Regions from separate parts of the Homo sapiens genome. Here region 1 is linked to region 2. Evidence: fine-mapped expression QTL. A gene starts in region 2. The other region holds a variant in brackets. All regions are shown on one strand. Distances are between the middles of the regions. Region 1 overlaps ARFGEF2 (ARF guanine nucleotide exchange factor 2). Region 2 holds the start of CSE1L (chromosome segregation 1 like).

Evidence for each region. PIP is the estimated chance that this variant, and not a neighbour inherited with it, causes the effect. A credible set is the group of variants that fine-mapping cannot tell apart.
Region 1: its variant is the best candidate, but not a certain one, in a credible set for the expression of CSE1L in whole blood (INTERVAL, PIP 0.81).

What each region holds. Positions count from the first base shown.
Region 1 is chr20:48,982,085-48,991,246 of GRCh38, reverse strand. ARFGEF2 (ARF guanine nucleotide exchange factor 2) reads right to left here. Exons shown (of 39, transcript NM_006420.3): 15 at 6,407-6,518; 16 at 5,634-5,839; 17 at 2,859-2,943; 18 at 2,585-2,756; 19 at 1,811-1,962; 20 at 1,563-1,691; 21 at 49-207. Among named protein-coding and RNA genes, the nearest start is that of CSE1L-DT, 59 kb to the left of the region's middle. The variant T/C (reference allele first, on the strand shown) is at 4,543.
Region 2 is chr20:49,041,801-49,050,962 of GRCh38, reverse strand. It overlaps CSE1L (chromosome segregation 1 like), which reads right to left and starts at 4,651. Exons shown (of 25, transcript NM_001316.4): 1 at 4,540-4,651. CSE1L-DT (CSE1L divergent transcript) reads left to right here and starts at 4,907. Exons shown (of 2, transcript NR_110625.1): 1 at 4,907-5,103. RefSeq lists enhancers at 3,653-4,293, 4,259-4,328, 4,879-5,028.

The DNA of each region.
Region 1 (9,162 bases), 60 kb after region 2:
GCCAGGAGTCATCCTAACTGAGAAAAGGCAATTCAAAGAGACACGTACCTCATGCCAGGAATTCCCAAGGTAGTTGCCATCGGTGTGAGCCACTGTGATAAGCGTCTTAATGGTGTCGATGTTTTTCTGCTTCATTTCTGTGATGCTGGAGCTGGCTGTGAGTAGGGAGAAGCGAGCAAGAGCCTGAACATAGGCATCTCGTTCCAGCTGTAACAGAAACCCAAGAGAGAACACTGTGACTCCAACCTTAGTGTGGCCATTCTCACATCTGCAGGGCTGGCACACTGGGCTTCTCTGATACTTTTTGTATGCACATTGACTGGCTTTCTGCACATTAGCACAACAGTTATTCCATGCTAATGCCCTCTTGCTTTTGGAACATCTTGCAGAGGTATCTATGCACTGCCACATGTTTGAGAAGCAGCTCTCTCCTTTCTAATTGACTTCAGTCAAACTCACCTGTCCCATGTTCCACTATGTCTGTTGAATACTAAGACTGTCACACAAATTGACATCTGCAACAATTCTGCCAGGCAGGTCTGTTTTCTCAAGTTTACAAATGAGGAAATGAATTGGTGTCTCAGAGAGACTTTAGCTGAGCCAATGTCACATGGTTGGAGAGGTGGCAGAGTGGGGTCTTGAAACCTAGATGGTCTAACGTCAAAGCTTGTGGTCTTGGTATAAAAGAAAATGTCTAACTGTAAAATGAATAGGAACAGAAGATTGAGTTTTTAAAAATAAATGGGGTGCAACTTCTGACTTACAAAGTGATGCATGGGATTGTCAACCTCCTAATTTCGTAACAGTTTCAGAATTACATTTCATTTATTTGCTTGAACTTTTCAAGTTTCAAAGGTTTACAGACATATTCATATTGCATTGAACTACTTGTTTCTCCAGGGAAGAGTTGGAAATATGCGAAATTATAATAAAAACTGATGTTAAAAAGGAAATAGTATTTTTAAGCACCAAAGCAGGCAAGTTAGGCAGATGAACACGAAGTCTGCTTTGTCAAATCCAGTCAAGAAGCTTGGACCCTACCTATTATTATTATTATTATTTTCTTTGAGATGGAGTTTCGTTCTTGTCACCCAGGCTGGAGTAAAATGGCGCGATCTCGGCTCACCGCAACCTCCACCTCCTGGGTTCAAGCCGGTCTCCTGCCTCAGCCTCCCGAGTAGCTGGGATTATAGGCATGTACCACCACACCCGGCTAATTTTATATTTTTAGTAGAGATGGGGTTTCTCCATGTTGGTTAGGCTGGTCTCGAACTCCCAACTTCAGGTGATCTGCCTGCCTTGGCCTCCCAAAGTGCTGGGATTACAGGCGTGAGCCACTGTGCCCAGCCTACCCATTCTTAAAGACAGTTTTAATCCGTATCTCCATTTTTGCCCCTAACGAGCTGTCATCACAAAGCTACGGATTTCTTGTCAGTAGGCATAAGTAAGTAGCTTGCTAAGAGTCTTGATTAACTGAAAATTTCTGATAATTTCTAAGTTTTGCCAAATCTAAAAGAGCACAACCCACCAGTATCTCTGGAGTGTTGCTGACTTACACCTACCTGCATTCCAAAGATGCAGGCGATTCGGATTGCACATCGGATGCCTTCCAAACACAAGGAGGCCACTTCAGTGTCATCACAGTTCTGGAGTCCGATGCTGTAGGCTGCCAATAGTGGCGTCCACACCAGCTATCATGGAAGGAAGATTTCAATAACATCCAGAGTTTTAGCGTGGAAAGAGTACTTCTCGCTGGCCAGCTTCAGAATCAGGCTTAGCCACATGCTTGCTAAGTTCTCAGGATACTCACTTTGAACATTGGCCGGACATGGTCCAGGTGAGTGGCACTGGTAAACGGGGCTTTGGCATGGCTCACAGCCTCCATCAGAGCTTTGGCTGTTTTAGCCATTTGCTCCATCTCTAAGTTGTACAGCAGCCGCCGCTGCTTTTCACTAGCTACATCTGTAAAGTAAGAGCATGATAGGTGTGGCTAGCAGTCACTGAGGGCTGGCTACATGCCATACACTGTTTCAAAAGATGCACAATGATTAACTCCTAAATCCTCCCAACCATCTCGTGAGTCCATTACAAATATTATTATTACCATTTTACAGATGGGAAAAATGAGGCAGAGGGGGTAAGTCACTTGCCCAGGGTCATACAATTACTAAGTAGAGGAGCTGGGACTTGATCTAAGGCAGTGTGGCTCTAGAGCCACACTCTAAACCACTACCCTTTGCTGCTTCTCAAACAGTGAAACTGACAGCTCCCCAGGGGCCATAACTAATAGAATTCTAATCAAGGCGGACACAATCTGAATTAAAGAAAAGTTTTAAAGAACACTTTTTGGGAGTAATTTAGTTCTCAGATTACTAATTTTAAATTCCTTCTTGCTCCTCATCAGAAATCTAGCAAGACAGTGACATTATAAAAGTCCCAACATAATCACAATAATTAATTCAATCACATTTCCTATTCAGATATCCAGCTATGCACATTAAATTTATCACCAGAGTATTTAATCATGCATTCTGATACACTAAAAAATTAGAACTAAAAGAAATAATTTGCCATTAGACCTTACTCTGCTTAGTAGATTTGGTTGCAATCGTTAGCTCTTTTGTTTCTTTCATTGCAATTTTCTTGCCTTCTATCTCTTCATAGATGCTTGAGAGATACTCTTCTGGCAGATCTTTACTATCATTGATACCCCGATTCATTTTAATATACTGCTCTTTCGTCATTTTATTTTTTACCTGTAATTAAAAAAAATTAAAAACCATTTAAAAAACATCCAATTGCCCAAGTAAAGCCACTTATTTAGCTAATACAACATGTAAATCATTAAAGTGCTTTACCTGAGGACTGTGCAAGTCTGTAGTCAGCATAATAATTGAATACGCTAGGACATAAGCAGTGTCAGCACTAGCAAACAGAGTTTGCCTGGAGAAAAAAATTCGAGACATCAATATTCATGGTGATGCGGTTTGGAAGGTACAATGCTAACAGAGACACACTTCACGAGAAAAGCAGCCGACTACTCCCCTTGATTCCAAATGAGGCAAGAGTTTTTACGCTTTCATCATCACTGAACAAGACTTAGCAACCCAGAGTGTAGAAAAAGCTCATTAACAATCTGTATCAAATTTTAGCTTCTTTGGCAGGGCGTGGTGGCTCAGGCCTGTAATCCCAGCACTTTGGGAGGCCGAGATGGGTGGATCACCTGAGGTCAGGAGTTCGAGACCAGCCTGGCCAACATGGTGAAACCCAATCTCTACTAAAAATACAAAAATTAGCTGGGCGTGGCAGCGGGTGCCCATAATCCCAGCTATTCGGGAGACTGAGGCAGGAGAATTGCCTGAACCCGGGAGGTGGAGGTTGCAGTGAGCTGAGATTGTGACACTGCACTCCAGCCTGGGTGACAGAGCGAGACTGTCTCAAAAATAAATAAATAAATAATAAAAATTGAGGCTTCTTTGAATAAAGCAATTTCAAATAATTTTTTTTAAAAAGACTCTAAGAAGCATCTGGGGCCAAGACTAGGGTGAAGCAAGTGAGCACATCAGGAGACCTTACACTTGGTGCTGACCCTGAGAGAGGGCATCTCACTATATTTCACACACTAAGCGCTTGAGTGCCTCCCCCACCTTGTCCTGTTCCTGAGAACATCTATTTTGTGCCATGTACTGTGCTAGACATGAGATATAAAGATGACTAAAACTGCTGTTTAGCTGTTATTTATAGTCTATATTACCCATTATAACATTTAATAGTAGAAATACCATGGAAAATATTTATGTTGTTCTAAACAATATGTTGGTGAAGTCTGACTTTTTTGCCTTAGGCAAGAAGAGAAGGACAACATGTGGATGTACAGCTTCATACGATATGAGGCTGAAGCTAGAAACTGTTCTGTCCAAACTGTCCATAACAGGAACAGTAGAAATTTTGAAGAACACAACAAAGGTCTTTTAATATGAGATGAAACTGGGTCACATATTTACTGACTGAGCAAAACAGACCAAGGCTCCCAGGTCCACATAGGAGATACGTTTAAAGTAAACAGCATCTAATTATGCCTTCATAGAGAGTTCTAATGTCCATTTGGTTAAAATGATGATATGCTGCCTTTGCCAATCCTGCCACCTCCTGGGGACAGCCTGCCATACACTTGGAAGACTGGGAGCAATTAATATGAAAACAAAGTTGACCTGAGAGGCAAAACAGTTATTAAAATGTTTCAATCAGGTGTGGTAGCTCACATTTGTAAATCCCCCACTTTGGGAGGCTGAGGCAGGAGGATCCCTTGAGGCTAGGAGTTCAAGACCAGACTGGGCAACACGGTGAAACTCTATCTCTGCAGAAATATTATACAAAAAATTAGCCAGGCACAGTGGCATGCACCTGTAGTCCCAGCAGTTCAGGAGGCTGAGGTGGGAGGACTGATTGAGCCCAGGAGATCCAGGCTGCAGTGATCTGTGATCACCCCACTGTACTTCAACCTGGGCAAGAGAGCAAGACCCTGTCTCAAAAAAAATAGTT[T/C]CCACTGAACAATTTCCACATCATGGTCACAGCATATTCAGACATATTTCTAATTTAATGTTCAGTGGAGAGAACATGAGTTTTTTTTTTTGAGACAGAGTCTGCCTCTGTCATCCAGGCTGGTGTGCAGTGGTGTGGTCTCGGCTCACTGTAGCCTCTGCCTCCCAGGTTGAAGCAATTCTCCTGCCTCAGCCTCTGAGCAGCTGGGATTACCCAGCTAATTTTTTTTTGTATTTTTGGAAGAGACGGGATTTCACCATATTGGCCAGGCTGGTCTCGAACTCCTGACCCCAAGTGATCTGCCCGTCCCGGCCTCCCAAAGTGCTGGGATTACAGGCAAGAGCTACTGCATCCAGCCCGAACATGAGCTTCTGAGTTAGAGAAATCCATATTCAACCCTGGCTCTGCTCCTTACTAGCTGATTAATTTTGGACAGGTTGCTCAATCTCTCAGATTCTCAATTTCCTCATCTGTAAAACAGGGATACTATTCCTGGGCTTGCCATTAATTAAATTAAATGCATGTAAAACCCATGGCATGGCCCACACACAGGAGGTATTTAATAATGGTTTGTTCCCCTTCCTATTTCCACTTCTTACAAAATCACGAACCGCCCATCAAAAAAGGTCCCCAGATAAAATCATGTACTTTGGTGGTTTTTATTAGTTATGTAGCTATTTCTGTAACCTGCTCATCAGTATGCAATTAAAGAAAAACCAAAATCCTTGAGATCTACCCCATATATTAAATCAGGGGAACTGTTTTTGATTAGGGAAGAGGTGCCCAATTGTCTCCTCTCAACTTATGAAACTACTCTTTTATAGTTGCTAACAGCATGGGCTTTAGCTGTGTGATCTTGGGCAAGTTAACCTCTCTGGTCCTCAATCTTTTTGTCTGTAGAATAGGGACATAAACAGGTTGCTGTGAGGTCTTATGTGAAATAATCCCTTAGCACAGTGCCTGGCACACGGTAAACAAAAGCTTCAGTTGCTTGGCACAGATATACAAAGATTAAACCCCAACCAAATTAGAATTAGCGTTCTGAGGCAGGCAAACAGATGATCTGGAAGGGACTCAAAATCGGCGCTCACCCTTGGTTGCATTCTATGTATCTTGCGGCAAACTTCTCCATTAATCGGTCAATCTTTTGGGCTTCTCCAGGTAGGCGGAAACCTTCTAGGAATGTCCGCAGGGCTGAGACAAATTCTTTTTCACAGAAGTCAAGTTGGTCCACGTAGGCATACATCACCTCCTTGTTGAACCTTGCGCTATCTCCCAGAAAATCGCCTACTTGGGTCTGAAACATACACACTCACTTATATCCAGAAATTGTCAAATACGAACCCTCAGCAAAAGCCAGCAGCCAAAGGGTGGAGTCAGAATAGCCTGGCCCTAACTGCCCAGAATAGGCTGGACTGGTAAAAAAGCTAGGGAACTCCCTGACCTGCCCACCCACCCACCCATTCCAGAAGCAGCCTGTCCTGCATGGATGAAGGAAGAGGAGGGGGCACAAGAGACTTAAAATGGAGAGAATGACGGGGCACACTAAGGAGGTTAGTTGCAGACAGGCAGCCGTAAGAACTTTCTAGCAGTCAAGGAACACTTCCAGCTCTGACTCTCTTCCAGCAAATATGCAGCCACCTGCTGGGAGGCTAGTTTATTCCCATCAAAGAGCTTTCTGCAACACTAGCCAACGGGATACACAGGACTGCTGTAACCCGGGGGTGGACAATAGACAATGTATAACCCGGGGGTGGACAACAGACAATGTACTTAGGGCCAGACAATCTCGAGGTTAAAACTGGTAAGGGCTCACAATCACCTGACAGAACTCACATGCAAGTGCTACACCCCCAAGCCTTACGGAATCCAGGCGCTCCTCCTGGTGCAGGAATTGGGCTATGTCTTCAACTGACGTTCCCAGCATGCCCTGCTCCTGGAGAAACTGGATCCCCCTCTTGGGTTTCTTGTTGAACCTGTTTCAAGCAGAGATGGGACACAAGTTGCTTATTTCAAAATCTGGAGGATAGCAAAAGCTGGTATTTGAGATAAATAATAATAGAATACTATGAACATGCCATCACGTATAAGCTAGCAAGGTCATGTCTGTCCTGGCAGCTTTTCTAAATTCCACCTTCAATTTCTGACCCAGCTATACCTGGTCAGAGTCTGCTGATTGTCACCTCATATCCACTCTCCCCTTCTCCAACACTAATAGAACCCTACGTGTTAGCTGGACACACTGCCATGTGGAATAAAAAGAACATTTCCCTGCCTCCCTTAAATAAAGGATGGCCATGTGATAAACTTCTAGCCAGTGAGATATGAGCAGAAGTGGTGTGGGTACTTCTAGGAAGGACCCTTAAACAAAGCTGACTCAGGTGGGAAGTCTGCTTTTTTCTCTTTTTGTTCTTTCCCTCCTCCTCTCCAGAATGTTTGTGGGATGGCTGGTACTCCAGCAGTCATCTTATACCATGAGGCCACCCTCTCTGGCTAAGTATGGTGAAGCAGACAGATAAAAGGAGCCTGGATCTCTGATGTCCTTAAGGGCCACCGTAGCAGCCTTAGACTGTCCACTTTTGGATTTCCTTGAGAGAGAAATACATAGTTAAGCATGTTATTTTGTATTTATTTTTTTCTTTCTCTACTTTTTTTTTTTTTTAAGAGACAGGGTCTCACTGTGTTGACCAGGCTGGTCTGGAACTCCAAGTGATCCTCCCACCTTAGCCTCCCAACGTGCTGGGATAACGGGCATGAGCCACCATGCCCAGCCCATTTTTTATTTCCTGCTAAAGGAAGGCAAAGCTAACCAATGTATAGACTCAACTTATTATTTACCAGGCCTGAGCTGGAGGGTGATATTCATGAGTAAGCACAAACTGGCAAGCGTCATGAAAGATACAAATAGGGGCAAGGGCAGAACTTAACTTGGGACCTGTTTAGATAGTGCAGTTGCTGAAGGCCTCTTTGAGTAAGAGATGTTTTACCAAGTCTGAGGGATGGAAAAAAGCCAAGAGAATTTCAAGCACAAGGCACCATGGTAAAAAGAGCTGAAGGTGTTCAAGGGACTGAAAATACATTGTGTGACTCAGGGGAATTGGCAGGAGATGAGATCAGCAAGGGAGGCCAGGGGCTGGGTCAGGCCATGGTGCAGAACAGGAAACCTGGAATGATTTAGGCAGGAGAGTGATAAGACTTGATTTATGTTTTAAAAAGATTACTTTAGCTGCTGTGGGCAGAATACACTAGAGGGAGGTGGAGTGGCGGCAGTAGAAATGAGAAGATCAAACATGTCAGTTAATAAGTGAGTACTGTAATTTCAACTCTTAAGTTGAACTTACTAAGTTAACTAATCATTTACAAGTTGGAATATATGATTGTGTATGTGTTGATGTGTGTAAAAGACTGGAAAGAAACATAAAGATTTGCCAATGATTGTGATGATGGTGCTGTGGTTATATGGGAGAATGTCCTTTATTTTTCAAAGAGATTCAGTTAAGGTCTCATGATGGCTACCAATTACTTTCAAAATGGTTCAGAAAAATATATACGTAAATAAAACAAGTAAGATTCCGTCCCAAGATGGCCAAATAGGAACAGCTCCGGTCTGCAGCTCCCAGTGTGATCGACGCAGAAGACGGTGATTTCTGCATTTCCAACTGAGGTACCTGGTTCATCTCACTGGGACTGGTTGGACAGTGGGTGCAGCCCACGTAGGGTGAGCTGAAGCAGGGCGGGGCATCGCTTTACCCGGGAAGCGTAAGGGGTCGGAGGATTTTCCATTCCTAGCCAAGGGAAGCCATGACAGACTGTACCTGGAAAATCGGGACACTCCTGCCCAAATACTGCACTTCTCCAATGGTCTTAGCAAATGGCACACCAGGAGATTATATCCTGTGCCTGGCTCAGCAGGTCCCACGCCCACGGAGCCTTGCTCACTGCTGGCTCAGCAGTCTGAGATTGACCTGTGAGGCAGCAGCCTGGCAGGGGGAGGGGTGTCTGCCATTGCTGAGGCTTGAGTAGGTAAACAAAGTGCTGGTGAAGCTCGAACTGGGCAGAGCCCACCACAGCTCTGCAAGGGCTGCTGCCTCTATAGACCCTACCTCTGGGGGCAGGGCATAGCTGAACAAAAGGCAGCAGAAACTTCTGCAGACTTAAACATCCCTGTCTGACAGCTCTCAGCAGTGGTTCTCCCAGCATGGTGTTTGAGCTCTGAGAACAGCCTGCCTCCTCAAGTGGGACCCTGACCCCCATGTAGCCTAACTGGGAGACACCTCCCAGAAAGGGCCGACTGACACCTCATACAGGCGGGTGCCCCTCTGGGACGATGCTTCCAGAGGAAGGATCAGGCAGCAATATTTGCTGTTCTGCAATATTTGCTGTTCTGCAGCCTCTGCTGGTGATACCCAGGCAAACAGGGTCTGGAGTGGACCTCCAGCAAACTCCCACAGACCTGCAGCTGAGGGACCTGACTGTTAGAAGGAAAGCTACAAACAGAAAGGAATAGCAACATCAACAAATAAAATGACATCCACACCAAAACCCCATCTGTAGGTCACCAGCATCAAAGACCAAAGATAGATAAAACCACAAAGATGGGGAGACACCAGAGCAGAAAAG
Region 2 (9,162 bases):
TGTTTCCATCAAAAATATTATTCTTCATCTTTATTTTGGTTGGTTGACTGTGTCAAACAGAAAGAGGTGGACACAACCTTCTAGATTCTAAAACCACAACAGGCTGAGCAAGGTGGCTCACTTCTGTAATCCCAGCACTTTGGGAGGTGGAGATGGGACGATCACTTGACCCCAAGGACCGTTCAAGACCAGACTTGGCAACAATAGTGAGATCCTGTCTCTACAAAAAATTTTAAAAATTAGCTGGGCTCAGGCCGGGCGCGGTGGCTTACGTCTGTAATCCCAGCACTTTGGGAGGCCGAAGCAGGCGGATCATCTGAGGTCAGGAGTTCGAGACCAGCCTGACCAATGTGATGAAACCCCGTCTCTACTAAAAATACAAAAAAAAAAAAATTAGCCGGGCGTGGTGGCATGCGCCTGTAATCCCAGCTACTCAGGAGGCTGAGACAGGAGAATTGCTTGAACCCGGGAGGCAGAGGTTTCAATGAGCCAAGACTGCACCATTGCACTCTAGCTCTAGCCTGGGCAACAAAAGTGAAACTCCCATCTCAAAAAAAAAAAAAAAAAAAAAAAAAAATTAGCTGGGCTTGGTGATACCCTCCTGTGGTCCTAGCTACTAGGGAAGTTGAGGCAGGAGGATTGCTTGAGCCCGGGAGGTCTAGGCTGCAATAAGCTGAGGTCTTGCCACTGCAGTCCAGTATGGGTGACTGAGTGAAACCCTGTCTCCAAAAATAAAATAAAATAAAATAAAATAAAATAAAAATAAATAAATAAAACCACATAATAGAATGAAACCTAAAATGATTAAGTTGAGATGCTAGGGTAGGACTATTTTTAAGTTTAAAAAAAAGTGAGGGGTTATATAAATATGCATGTTATAATCCCTCAAAGTTAAAATACTACATAGATCCCAGAATCTTAATACTCTTTTTTGAGACAGGGTCTGGGTCTGTTACCTAGGCTGGAGAAATGCAGTGGTGTAATTCTGGCCCACTGAAACCTCTGCCTCCTGGGCTCAAGCCATCCTCCTACTTCAACCTCCCAAGTAGCTGGGACTACAGGCACACACCACCACACCTGGCTAATTTTTGTGTTGTTTCTGTAGACATGGTTCCAGTGTTGCCCAGGCTGGTCTGGAACTCCTGAGCTCAAGTGATCCGCCCACCTTGGCCTTCCAAAGTTTATTCTTTGGGAATATTCTTTAAGGAACTATTTGTCAACAAATCCTTTTTATATCGCCTTGCAGATATAGTCTATAAAACCGAATTCTAAGCTTATCCTTAATTTGAGAAAATAAGAGAAATCAGGGACTTTTAGAGAACATTTTACAGGTATTCATAATTATCAACAAGATCAAGCTCTAATTATCTTATGCAACCACAAGTAAAGGTACTTTGACACTCTGAAATATTAGCAATATATAAATGCAAAAAGTGTTACTGATCTAAAAATGACTCAAACTAGAAACAAAACATTCATTTTGGCCAAGTAGGGTGGCTCATGCCTGTAATCCCAGCTCTTTGGGGGGCCAAGGTAAGCAGATTGGTTGAGTCCAGGAGTTTGAGACCAACCTGGGCAACATGGTGCCATCTCTACAAAAAAAAAATAAAAATTAGTTGAGTGTGGTGGTGCACGCCTGTAGTCCTAGCTACTCGGGAGGCTGAGGTAGGAGGATAGACTGAGCCCAGGTCAGCCCAGGCAACACAGTGAGATGGTGTCTCCAAAAAAAAAAGGGAGGGAGAAGATAAGAATTCATTTTTATCACCTTTAAATGAGGGGGTGATACTTTTCTTTCTCCACGTAACTATCTTTGGAAATCTCTACCAATACACAATTAAGAAACTTAAAAAAGCATCACAATAAATCAGTTATGGCAGACATCTAAATTTCCAAGTTCTTCTTGTTGAATGAATGGCCAGACCTAAGTCTAGCATCTTCCCACAGGCCCTCAATTACAGGTGGAGATTTCTGGAATAAAAGCTTTGTTTTCCAAAGCCATCTCACAGACATCTGTGACATAAGCTGATCCAAGATGTCTGCCTTTTTCTTAGATATGTCCTCAACACATTAGAGAACCATTCCCGAGGCCTTACATTTGGGAAGAGGGAAAGAGATCCAATGAATGAAAACTATCTGGCACCCACACATGAAGAACATATCCCAACACCTCAACCTACCCTCTGCTTTCTAACCATAGGAATATACCACTTAGAATCAAATCCAAACTCCTTACATTGCCTACAAAGCCTTCTATGATCCGGGTCCTGGATATTTCTCCCTTCTTCATGTAACACTCTAGGAACCTAAGATATTCCTTAAATATTTCAATATTCCAAGCCGGTTCCTGTCCTTGAGCCTTGAGCCTTCTATTCCCTCTACCTGGAATGTTCTGCCCCTCACCTTTTAATGGCTGGTCTCTACCCAAATGTCACCTCCTCAGAAAAGCCTTCTTCACCTGTCACATAATTCTGTCACTATCTGAAATTATCTAATGTTTTTTCTTTCGCCCACGAGAATACATGGTCCTCAAGGGAAGGGACCTTGTCCATTTTTGTTTTTTCACTATATTCCCAGAGATTAAGTGGATGCTCAATAAAGTTATTAAATGAATAAAGAAACAAATTAATTCCAAAACTAGAGCACTGCTCTTGCATCCATCCAATCCTGTCCCAGACCCCAACCAGCAGAAGTAATCAGAAGGGGAGAGAGACTTCCCTTGCACTGATGGTAAGAAGTGAAAGATAAAGGGTTGTAGGAGCGGAGAGACGAGGTCCATTAGGATCCTCTGAAAGCATGTCAAAAAAAAAAAAAAAAAAGAGAGAGACACACACAGAGAAAGGCCAAAGATATGACTATGTGGGCCCAAGGTGAGAAAAAGAGCAATTGGTGGAATCCAAGACTAAAGGGTCCCCTTCTGTGCCTCCAAGGAAGAATAATACTTGTGCATCTACCATGTGGCAAGCACAGGTGGGATGGCACCCACCAGGGAGAGAGAAGTAAGCAAGACAGACAAGGTCCTTGCTCTCAAACAGCTTACATTCTAGCAGTTGAGAAAGATAACAAGTAAGCAATAAGTAAGTGTTAGTAAATGCTATGAAGTAACTAAAACCAGGTGATGTTGATGGAGAGCCATGGGAGAAAGGTCCTAGACAGGTTGATTAGACAGCCTGATCAACATGGTGAAACCCCGTCTCTAATAAAAATACAAAAATTAGCCGGGTGTGGTGGCGTGTAGTCTCAGACCTGTAGTCTCAGCTATTCGGGAGGCTGAGGCAGGAGAATCGCTTGAATCCGGGAGGCGGAGGTTGCAGTGAGTCGAGATCGCGCCACTGCACTCCAGCCTGGGAGGCAGAGCGAGACTCTCTCTCTCAAAAAAAAAAAAAAAAAAAAAAAAAAAAGAAAAGAGAAAAGAAAAAGAAAAAGAAAACAAAAGAAGAGGTTGGTTAGGGGAGGCCTAAGGTGAGGGAAACTTGGGAGAGGCGGCCTGCCTTGCAAAAATGTTGGTACTTCCCCAGCAAACAAAAGGCATGTGCAAATAATTTTAAATCGGAATAACCCTGGAATATGGAAGAAACAGAAAGCCACACTGGCTAAGGAGAAAGATGGGTGGGAGAGATGAATAAACAACCGTCAGCTCCCAGGGAACCTTTGTAAACCACGGTAAATAACTCAGCGCATCCTCAAAGCCACTTTCCGAGGTAGATTCTGTTATTAACCCCATTTTGCAGCTAAGGAAATGGAGGCTCAGTGAGATGAGGTGACCAGCCTCAAGTTACACCCCTAACGAGAGGCTACGTCTGGAATGAACCCAGGCGATCTAATTCCAAAGTCTATGCTCCGAACCACCACAGCACAGCGTTTCTCCCAAAACGAGGGAACCCTCCCCCAACCCGCGTTACAGGGGATTTCTATGTCCCGGGTGTACCGACTAGAATTCTCACAAACAATTCAGCAAAGTGAGATCACGATGCCCGTTTTACAGTCAGGGATACAAGTACAGAGGTTAGAGAAGGGTGAGTTCGGGGGCTTCACTAGAGTTAGGGCAAGGGACGACGCGAGGCAGCCGCAGCTCCACGCGCCCGCAGTCCCCGCCCGGGCAGGCCTCGCCGCCGCACACTCAGCTCGCGCGGCTAGCAGCCACCGTCGCAGAGAATGGACATGCGAGCGCGACCAATAAGGAGCGGCCTTCCCGAGCGGAGAGGCGGCGGCGCAGCCAATCAGCGCCGTGATGGAGAGGAAAGGGCGGGCAATCCGCAGGCTCGCGTTAGGCCGCGCCTCAGTTGCCCTCAGCCCTCACAGGCCCTGGGGTCGCCGCACCTGGGCCAGAGACCTAGGATGCCGCGAGGCGCGGCAAGCGCTCCCTAGGGAAGCCGAAGACCTTGCCTGAGCGCACCACCCGAACCCCGGGCCCACATTCCGCTCTCGCCCAGAGGCGCGGTTCTCACTCCCTAGCGCTCGTTAGTACCGGGAGCGCCTCATCCCTTCCTCAGCTGGGCCCCAAGAGCCACTCTGGTAGGCCGTGCACGCCCCGCGCCTCACCTCGTGGGGATACAGAAACGGAGGAGGGAACCCCAGCCGCGGACCGTAGCTGGCACTACCCGCTCCTGCCGCCGCTCCGCCTCACATTCAAACCCCGGCAAAATGGCGCGACAGCGAGCCTGAGGCCAGAGCGCATGAGCGAGCGGCCCGCTGCAGGGGGCGGGGCCAGGAATGCTCTGGCCCCACCCAAGTTCGAAGGGCCAATCGGGGCCCCGCTCTGTTTCTGCGCTGATCTCACAAGTGACAATGCTCTTTGGCTCTGACCATGCCAGCAGGCTTCACGGTTCTCGTTTTCCAAAGAGGAACACAGATTCAGCGAGCGGCTGCTGGCTTCTGACCCATTTTGATGTCAGGGCTTGGCACGTAGGAGGTGTTCAATGTTGATCGATCCAAGGTCGTGCACATAGGGTCTAAGACGGAAGAGAACTTCCTGCCCCTCTTGGAGCTTCTATTTTAGAGGGAGACACGGCCAGACAGGTCTCGAACTCCTGGCCTCAAGTGATCCGCACACCTTGGCCTCCCAAAATGCTGGGATTCCAGGCGTGAGCCACCGCGCCTGGCCTGGTATGTAAGTTTTGGTACTCTTATTACAGCCCACAAACCATATGGGATCTGGCCCCTGCCAGCCTGCCTGCCCTCATCACCTTCCGCTTCCCTCCTCTCCTCACCCTCACTCAGCTCCGCCACCCCACCTTCTTCCTGTTCCTCTAAGCTCCAAGCTTATTTCCACTTTAGAGCATTTATACTTGCTGTTCCCTGTGCTGGGATGTTCTAGATTCCTGAATGATTGGCTCCTTCTTTACATTTAGGTTCCAGCTCAAATGTCACCTCCACAAAAGAGGCCTATCTGAAATTGCCCACTCACCACCACCCAGCACACAAATTAGGGTTGCCAGGTTTAGCAAATAAAATGCAGGCTGCCCAGGTCAATGTAAATTTTAGAAAAAAATTTATAATTTTCTAGTATAAATACTGTGTAGGACATATTTATACTTAAAAATCATGCATTGCTTATCTGAAATTCACATTGAACTGGGTGCCCAGTGTTTGATCTGGTAAGCCTAGTTCCATGATATCATTATGGTATTTATCACTCTCCAACTAATTGTCTCTTCTTTATTTTGTTCCTCCTTCCGCTTCTCCCCTCCTAAACCCCTGCCCTCCTCCCCATCCATAACCTAAGGGATTCTATACAGCAAGGGCTTTTCTTTTTTTTTTTTTTTTTTAAAGACAGAGTCTTGCTCTGTCGCCCAGGCTGGAGGGCTGGAGTGCAGTGGTGCTGTCACAGCTCACTGCAACCTCTGCCTCCCAGGTTCAAGCAATTTTCCTGACTCAGCCCCCCAAGTTACTGGGACTACAGGTGCCCGCCACCATGCCCCGCTGATTTTTGTATTTTTAGTAGACACGGGGTTTCACCATATTGGCCAGGCTGATCTTGAACTCCTGACCTTGTGATCCGCCAGCCTTGGCCTCCCAAAGTGCTGGGATTACAGGCATGAGCCACCACGCCTGGCCAGGGCTTTTTTTTTTTTTTTTTTTTTCTTTTAAGAGGCAGGGTCTTGCTCTGTCACCCAGGCTGCAGTGCAATGGCACAATCATAGCTCATTGCAACCTCGACCTCCTAGGCTAAAGCAATCCTCCCACCTCAGCCTCCTGAGTAGCTAGGACTACAGGCACCTGCCACCACACCTGGCTAATTTTGAATTTTTTTGTAGAGATGAGCTCTCACTATGTTGCCCAGGCAAACTCCTGGCCTCAAGTGATCCTCCCACCTCCGCCTCCTAAAGCACTGGGATAGGGCTGGGCATGGTGGCTCACGCCGGTAATCCCAGTGATTTGGGAGACCGAGGCAGGCAGATCACCTGAGATTGGGAGTTTGAGACCTGACCAACATGGAGAAACCCCGTCTCTACTAAAAATACAAAATTAGCCGGGTGTGGTGGCGCACGTCTGCAATCCCAGCTACTTGGGAGGCTGAGGCAGGAGAGTCGTTTGAACCCGGGAGGCAGAGGTTGCGGTGAGCTGAGATCTTGCCATTGCACTCCAGCCTGGGCAACAAGAGCGAAACTCCATCTCAAAAAAAAAAAAAGCCCCGGGATTACAGGTGTGAGCCACCACATCTAGCCCCATATTGATGGTATTCACAGCTGTACCCCCAGCACTAGGCACACAGTAGCTGCTTAATAAATGTTTGTTGCATGTTGAATGAAATGCCATATATAAATAAGTGAAGTCCATGGAGAAAGATACATGAGTGAAAGACATTGGTGAGGCCGGGCACGGTGGCTCATGCCTGTAATCCCAGCACTTTGGAAGGCTGAGGCAGGCGGATCATGAGGTCAGGAGATCGAGACCATCCTGGCCAACATGGTAAAACCCTGTCTCTACAAAAATACAAAAATTAGCCAGATGTGGTGGCATGCGCCTGTAGTCCCAGCTACTCAGGAGGCTGAGGCAGGAGAATCGCTTGAACCTGGGAGGCAGAGGCTGCAGTGAGCCGAGATCGAGCCACTGCACTCCAGCCTGGGTGACAGCGAGACTGTGTCTTAAAAAAATAAATAAATAAATAAAATAAAAATAAAAATAAACCATGATGGTCAGAAGACGGTGGAACATTTTAAAAAAAAACAAAGACATTGGTGAAAAAGATGTATTTTTACTATTGCAGCAATAGTACCAGTAATCACCAGTAATCATTTTAATCGTTCTAATCTGCATTTTTTTTTTTTTTTGAGACGGAGTCTCACACTGTTGCCCAAGCTGGAGTGCAGTGGTGCGATCTCGGCTCACTGCAAACTCCACCTCCTGGGTTCACGCCATTTTCCTGCCTCAGCCTCCCGAGCAGCTGGGACTACAGGCGCCCGCCACCATGCCCAGCTAATTTTTTGTATTCTTAGTAGAGACAGGGTTTCACCGTGTTAGCCAGGATGGTCTTGATCTCCTGACCTCATGATCCGCCCGCCTCGGCCTCCCAAAGTGCTGGGATTACAAGCGTGAGCCACCACACCCGGCCCACTAATCTACTTTAATATAATTAACATGTTCCTCTAGTCCTAGGGAGAATGAGCCTGATGACTTTACCATTTTCCACCTCTAAGAGCCAATCGCAAAGGAGGCTGGCTGGCATCTTGTGTCTGTCTAGCATCTCTACCAGTTTCTGTAGAAAACCCTCAAGCTGTGCCAAGACGATCATGTCTGGACACAGCTCTTGGTGTCACGGGGTGTCTCCTCCTACTGCCTATCGCCCTTTGCAGCCACCAGAATAATCATGCAGGTGAGAGCCACAGAAAGGCTGAGTGTCCTTCTCCACTCTGCATGGTTCATGGGTGACAGCTAAAGATTCCCTTGGGAATCCTCCCCATCCCAGCTCCACTACATGCACATACTCTTGGGGCGTGCTACAACTCTTAACAGACTGTGTTGGAAACCAAAGAAAACAATTCATCCACTTCAAGGAGCAGGAGACTAAGTACTCATTCATGTAGTTTCCTTTCTTTCTAAACCCTTATAAAACAATCTGTCTAGGTTGGGCATGGTGGCTCACGCCTGTAATCCCAACACTTTGGGAGGACAGGATGGGTCACCCGAGGTCAGGAGTTCGAGACCAGTCTGGCCAACATTGTGAAACCCCATCTCTACTAAAAATACAAAAATTAGCCGGGTGTGGTGGTGGGTGCCTGTAATCCCAGCTACTTGGGAGGCTGAGGCAGGAGAATCACTTGAACCTGGGAGGTAGAGGTTGCAGTGAGCTGAGGTCGCACCACTGCACTCCAGCCTGGGCGACAAAGCAAGATTCTGTCCCCCCGCGCAAAAACAAAAAAAACCCCAATCTGTCTAATGTAAGGAAAGACATTCTGAAAAGACACATTGTCTATGGTGTGCTCCTTGAGGAAGATAACTTTACATTTTATTTGGATCCAGAAGGGCGTGGACACATCTGGTTATGCTGGGAAAGAACAAGTCTTATGTCTCAATCTCGCTTTTAAAGCCCAACTGAGATGCAGAAGAGTGTTAACAGCTAAACATTGAGAAGTATCTGATTGTTGTTTCTTATCTTTTTTAAAATGGAGGCACTTTAATTTTTTTTTTTTTTTTTGAGATGGAATCTCACTCTGTTGCCCAGGCTGTACAGTACAGTGGCGCGATTTTGGCTTACTACAACCTCCGCCTCCCAGGTTCAAGCAATTCTCCTGCCTCAGCCTCCCAAGTAGCTGGGACTACAGGCGCCCACTACCACACTCAGCTAATTTTTGTATTTTTAGTAGAGATGGTTTCACCATGTTGGCCAGGCTGGTCTTGACCTGACCTCAGGTGATCTGCCCACCTTGGCCTCCCAAAATGCTGGGATTACAGGCGTGAGCCACTGCACCTGGCTTATTTCTGTTTAAATATATGTTTATATGTTATAAAAATCTACACGTTTGAGACTAGCCTGATCAACATGGTGAAACCCCATCTCTACTAAAAATATGAAAATTAGCCGGGCGTGGTACTGTGTGCCTATAATCCCAGCTATTTGGGAGGCTGAGGCAGGAGAATTGCTTGAACCCAGGAGGCAGAGGTTGCAGTGAGCTGAGATTGCACCATTGCACTCCAGCTGGGCAACAGAGCGAGACTCCATCT